2 linked regions of the Homo sapiens genome follow. The protein of the gene in region 2 interacts with the protein of the main gene of each other region in a biochemical or structural test. Each region holds a gene or a part of one and is shown on either strand. Other genes may lie near its edges.

Region 1 (3,500 bases), on a different chromosome or scaffold from region 2:
GTTATCAAGCAGCCACCATGTCGCTTTCTGCAAAGCCAAGAAAACGTTTTGTTTTCTCCCTAAATGTTTTACCCTAAATTTTGGTTGTTTTATTTGTTTATGCCAGCATTTTATGTTGATATCTCCGCGGACACAGCCTTTTTAAAGTACAGTATCCCCATCCTGGCCAACATAGTGAAACCCCTTCTCTACTAAAAATACAAAAATTAGCTGGGCGTGGTGGCACACGCCTGTAGTCCCAGCTACTCGGGAGGCTGAGGCAGGAGAATCGCTGGAACCTGGGAGGCAGAGCTTGCAGTGAGCCAAGATCGTGCCACTGCACCCCAGTCTGGTGACAGAGCAAGACTCCGTCTCAAAAAAAAAACCCCATAAAATAATTAATTAAAATTAATTATGAAATAATTAAATAAAAAATAAAGTGCAGTATCCCTTCCCTGAACTCTCATGGGGAGTTCAAAGTCAGCAAAGGGGGCAGAGGTTCCCCGGGTTACTTACTTTTTCCAACTTTTCTAGCTTGACCCTTGATTCCCGCAGGACTTCCTGGTGGATGTTTTCCAGTTCCAGTTATTTATCTGTGTCTTTTTTTTTAACTTATGTCTAGAACATCTTCTTCATTTACCTTTATTTTTTCCTTGTTCCTCTGCTTACCATGGTTCATCCCGTATTTTGAATACAGATTGATCTGCCTAAGATTCTCCTTAAGCCCATTCACATTCAAATTCTGCTGCCAGGTCACAAAAGTTAACAAGGAAAGAACAAAGTAAAAAAAGGTTATTCTTTTCACATGTATCATCCTAGAGTACTCCTTTGACGCTAATGATTTTCAAGAGAATGAAATGGTTCTCCACTTGAGCTCTGTTTTTATGTATATAATCAACCCACATAGACCATATTTCCTCCCATCACTGGTATCTAATTTTCCAGCCTTCTCTACATTGCCTTGACCCCACCATTCCACCTCACCCAAAAAATTGCAGAAGTAGCTGATAGGATGAGCCATGTCTCCAGGTGCAACATGCTGCCTGGACTGCACTGTGACCTGCCCTCTTCCTCTTCCTCACCTGACCAGACACACTTCATAGACTTCTTCACGCAAGTAGAGGCGTATTTAGAAAGAATGCCAGACCCTGAGGGGAGCCTGAATCTCCACTTTACTGCTGCACAAGTCATGTCACCTCTCAAGGCTCCCATTTCTCTTCTGTAAAATATGAATGATAACTTTCACTAATTTTTGTAAAGCAGACATGATGGGAAATAATATAACCTAGATAAGTGATTTGAAACTGTGAAGTGCTACTTATGAATGATGTTCTCCTCTCTTCTATTTTTATCGAATATTTTGTTTGGTTTTCCTCTAATATCCTTCCCTGGAGGTCAGTTGGGGCTTTGCTTTGAGCAGCCCATCCTCTTGATCTGCAGTTTGAATTTCGGGACTTTCAAGGACAAGTCCCTCCATAAATAGTCTTTATTTACTTTTCTTGTGGTCTTGTTGTTTGGTTGTTTTTTGTTTTGATACAAAATGTAGCCACTAAGCAGATGCAGATTGAATGTCCAGGCAATCTCTGGTCTTATCTATTCCCTGTGTTGACATAACACCAGAAGCAATGGATTAGGTGTCCATGTGTGATGACCACAAGGGGTAGCTCAGCCACTGATAGGATACCATCACCACAAAAGGGAATATATTTTCTCCAAACCGTGTTGAAAAATACAGGTTAGGCTGAGGCATCAATCCAGTGATGTTCGAAATATTAATTTTGTTTTTTGTATGAAGTTGTTACACAGGAAGCTTCTTAAAATCCTATGAATATTTTGACCGGATCTCATTTAAATGTTATTTCTAGTGCTATTACTTATAGAGAAACTCTGGGAAACAAAGAAAAAGGAGGAACACTGTGAAATTACCCTTACTTCTTGGCAGAAAGATATATTTTGGTGATTTCATTTTGGCTTTCATTCAAGTATAACTTTTACATGATTGTGCTCATATTATATGTATGTATATATGTGTGTTACTTTACATTCTATTTACATTGTAGTTTCTCATTTAGGATTTTACTATGTAGCCTGTATAGTATCAAAAATTACCTACAACTCTATAAATCTCATTTTAAGGACAGACTAATGTTTCATTAAAGATACACTATTGCATACTTAAACCAATCTCCTTTTTATAGAACATTAAATTGGATTATTTTCCACTTTTTACTATTATCTGTGTCCACACCATTTATTAGCACTTTATTAATTCTACCTCCACAAACAATAGGTAAAATGGACTGCCTCAACAAACTTGTCATCATTAAATATTATTCTTTTCCTTCTAGCTTTGTCCACTACATAGATAGAAAATAATTATTTCAATGTACTTTGTATTACTTGACTATTGTTGGCATATTTTAATATTTCCTCAGTTTACTTCAAAAATCATTTAATAAACACAGCTAAGTGCTAAGCATTAGGAATAAAAAGACATAGTTTCTAACTTCCAGGGAATATTTGGCCTAGTGGTTGATGTCCTTTACTTATTTGTCTATTTGTATATGTTACTGATTTGAATGACTTTATCACAAAAATAAAGGCATCAATATTCTGTCATAATTCTAGAAAATATTTTTCTTTTCCAGTTTGTGGTTTACCCTGTGTTTTATTCTTTTTAACTTTTTAAAATATACAGTAGATTGAGATTTTTATTTGTAATGTATTCTACTGCTCTTAATTTTAGAAATTCCTTTCCTAAAGGAATCAGAGAGAAATTAACCAATATTTTCCTCTGTATTTTTAAAGACAATTTATTAAATTACCTGGAATTTGCTTTGGTGTATGATAATGGGATATCCTTTTTTTTTCAAAATAGCCCCATGATTTGATTGAATATTCATTTCCTTTAGCATTAATAATGATTTAATGTACAGCATGGTGAACATAGTTCATAATACCGTATTGTATACTTGAAATTTGCTAGGAAAGTAGATCTTAAGTGTTCTCACCACACACACACACACACAAATATATATACATACATATATATGTATATATACACACACATATATATAAACATATATATAATCTGGGGTGATGAATGTGTTAACTAGCTTGATTGTGGTAATCATTTCATAACATATATGTATATCAAGTCATCACATTGTACACCTTAAATATATACAATTTTTATTATACTGCAATAAAGTTAGGGGAAAAAAATTCCACTGTTTTTTTAAAAAAGCCATGATGTTCTAAGCTCTGTTATTAATCAAAATACTTGTACAGTTGATTCTCTTGGATTTTCTAGTTATAAAACTGTGTCTCTGTAAATAATGAAAATGGTTTCCTTTAACACCAGATCTTGATCATTAAAATTGTCATAGTATAAAATATTATATCTTTGCACATGTCTGCTCTGAAACCTGTTTTTGTCTTTTGTTCCAGGAGCAGTACATTTTTATCCATCAGTGTGTGCAACTGATGTGGATGAAGAAGAAGCAGCAGTTCTGCATCAG
Region 2 (3,334 bases):
CGGCACAAAGCGGAGGGAGGCTGTGGTCGCTGCCGGCCTAGGTGTCCCAGGTGCCCCGCCTTTCTCTGGGACACAGTTGGGGGCTGGCTTCTGAGGGATTCCTTTCTCCCCTCTTTGTGTGGCCCCAGCCAGGGCGGTGGGCAGTCCTGGTGTAGAGCACAAGCCTCTCCACCCTAGAGAAATGCCTCTGTACCACGGCTACCATGTGGAACCTTAACTTGCAGAAGGCTTGTTAACAATTGTTTTGAGAGAGATGGCTGGTCATGCCACAGCTGCTGGGGACTCCGCCTACTCCAGCCCTCTTGGGACACACTGTGGGATTTGTGGCCCTTCCCCAGAGGAATTGTGGAGACTGTCCCATGGAACAAACCCTCAGGCACCAGCACAGGGCTCTGGGTGACTCAGTAAAACTAACGTTTGTCTCTGACAAGATCAGCTGTAGGCTCACCGGCCAGAGAAGACCACTGTGAGCATTTTGCCGTATATCCTGCCCTGCCATTTGTTCACTTTTTAAACTAAAATAGGAACATCCGACACACACCGTTTGCATCGTCTTCTCCCTTGATATTTTAAGCATTTTCCCATGTCATGAGTTTCTCAGAAACATGTTTTTAACAATTGTACTATTTAGTCATTGTCCATTTACTATAATTTATCTGACCATTTCCCTACTGTAAAATACTTAAGACGGTTTCTGATTTTTCCACTATTTAAATAATGCTGTGATGAATATCTTTAAAATCTTCTGATTTCTTACTTTTTTCCCCCTTAGATGCCTGGAAGTGGTATTTTGAGGTGAAAGAGTTTGTTCATTTTGAAGATATTTCTGTCTCTCTCTCGACCTGATGTGTAGACGCTCACTTCCAGTAGCAGAACCACCTTAGTTGTGTCTTACAGATTCTGAACAAATCGGTTTCTGATAAGCCATGTGTTCCAAAGAATGTCTGAATAAGACCGCTCTTTATTTAAATGCTAAGAGGATGTCACTACTGCAATCCATCTGTGGCCGATTTTTTCCAAGAGCCAATTTCCTTGTTTTGGTTGCAAGAACCTGGCTCTGCCTGCATGTCAGCTCTCTGCCCTCCCTGCTGCCGTGGCTTTCAAGCGCTTGGCAGAATCTTGTACTTCGTGTCCACAATGGTACTGAATTTGCATCTGCACAGTCAGCAGAGATAACAAGTGTTGAACTGACCTTGCCACATGCTTAGTGAGTGATTTGTAATTAAGTTTATAGACTCAGAAGGTATATTAGGACATTTGGAATCAGTAGCAGAGCAAAGCCTCTTTGAAAAAAACCACGTAGCTGATTGGGTTTTACAAGAGTGCATTTGTCTCCCCCTTCCACCCGTGGGGCCCCACCTTCAGGTCTTAGTGGTTCACAAGAGCCCAGCAGCCAGGCTGGCTTTTTCATTGTAGGGCGTGGTTGTCCCAGCTGGTGTAGATTTCAGGCCGCCCCCCCCAACTCCCTGCCCACAGTGTTGCAGATTGCCTGGCTGGCAGCAAGTCCAGACCACCCAAATTTGGTTGGATTCTTCATTTCTCCACTGTAGTTGGGGTCCATTGATTGTGCAGGGGAACGTGCAGGAGGTTTTTCTAGGCACCGTGTTCAGTGCTGCTTCACTCTACCAGAGATTATGGCCAAATTGCACGGAATTTGGTTTCTTGCCCTCTGAAGCCTGAGGGCCCCCCCTTGCCTGGCTGGTTGACAGACCCGGGGTGGTCACTGCTGAGACTTCAGAGATCGCAGCTGCTGTGAGAATACGGTGAAGGTACTTTGTTCTGGAAGATGTTGTCATACACTTTTCCCCAGTTATTTTCAAACTTGACATGAGCCTATGTTGACTCACTGGGTGGGGGTCCCTTCTTACGCAGCACACGTGGCAAGTGCCTGAATCGGGGCTGGAGGCACTTCAGAGCCTCTGAGGGGCCACCACTTCTGGCCCAAAATTGCAGGGTTGTAGATGAGGCTGCCTGTGGAGAACTGGTGTGAGGAGGAAGCTGTTTCCAACAAAGAGCACTTTCATCTGTTGAGATGGCTGTGGTGAGCAACTGAACGAGCCTACGTGTGTACCTGAATTTTCCCCGTAACTCATTTCTTCCATATGAAGAAACACCAAACTATGTACAGAGAACTTTTTACAAAAGGCAGACCTTTTTTAAGCTGTGTAACCCACATAGCCTAACCACCTGGCAGAATGACTACGAATAGGGGTCATTGTGCTGGTAAAAGCCTCTATTACGACTGTAAGTAAGTTGGATGTTGGCAAAATTAAATTGTTACAGTATTTAGAGCTGCTGTAGCTGTTCCTTCACAACATAAAATAGGATAAATGACTAGTACGTCTTTCAGGTGGGTGGCAAGCAGAACATGCGTAATATTCTCTACCTGGTCTGTAGCTGTAACTGTGATGTACAGACAAAGCAAAAATTAAAAGAACTTATGAAAACAAATGCAATGATACTAGGATATACACTTTTGTATTTTTATTCTTATATAAGGTTATTTGCTGGCTATTGTTGGCCTCTAGTTCAGTCTGTGTTATTTAAATTCTAATATATGAATTATTTGAATTGAATTCATGTTCGGGGCCACGTTGTTGTATGTATTGATGTACAGCCTTGAATGTGAATAATTATTGTAAACTATATTTTACAACTTTTTTTCTGGCTTTATTATATAAATTTTCTATTGGGTCAGTGATTTAATCATATAATTTAATGAATCTGTTTATCCTTTTTTTTTTTCCAAATACTTGTGCTTTAGGTGTAGTTACCAGATGATGAATTTTCCTCGTATGGTCAGTAGTCTTGTAATAAAAAGCATGTAGAGTGTAGAGGTTTGCTGGCGTGGCTCTTCCTTTGACCCCGCCACGGAGTGGGGGCGCGGTTGGGGGCGGGTGTCTGCCATTGCCCGCTAGCGTTGGCGCCCCAAGCTCGGTTTCACTCCCTCCGGAAGTGGGACCAGCCGGCTGCTTTTCCCGGATGGAACTTCCGCCTGCCATGTGACCGGCGGGTGTTCTACAAGGGCTGACCAGTGGGCGGGACAGAACGCAAAGGGCGATATTAAAAGCCGGACTCTTCCGGTGAAGCGGAGGTGTGGTGGGGCTTGCTGGGATCATGGCGGGGAATCACTGCGAGCTCCTGCCGCTGGCCCGTGGCAGGCTCGGGGCGGGGTTGGGGTGGCTTCTTGTGCCTCCCTTAAAGCGCGGGGCTCAGCGTCCTGGCCCAGCGCCCCAGCAGCAGGTCCAAGTGGGTCCGGCTCTACAGCGGCGGCACCTACTTCCTCACCACTGGGCAGACGCCGCTGTGTCAGGACCCGAAATCCTTCCTGTAC

The links. Proteins that work in one complex are often made in the same cells at the same time.
Region 1: of the proteins of PDPK1 (region 2) and PTPRO, one has a biochemical effect on the other in vitro, tested with the Homo sapiens proteins (one large-scale study listed by IntAct).

Annotation. Positions count from the first base shown.
Region 1 is NC_000012.12:15,591,508-15,595,007, forward strand, and holds part of PTPRO (receptor-type tyrosine-protein phosphatase O isoform a precursor), read left to right. Parts: intron 1-3,429; coding exon 3,430-3,500.
Region 2 is NC_000016.10:2,600,355-2,603,688, forward strand, and holds the end of PDPK1 (3-phosphoinositide-dependent protein kinase 1), read left to right. Parts: 3' UTR 1-2,834; downstream 2,835-3,334. UniProt on the Homo sapiens protein: Serine/threonine kinase which acts as a master kinase, phosphorylating and activating a subgroup of the AGC family of protein kinases.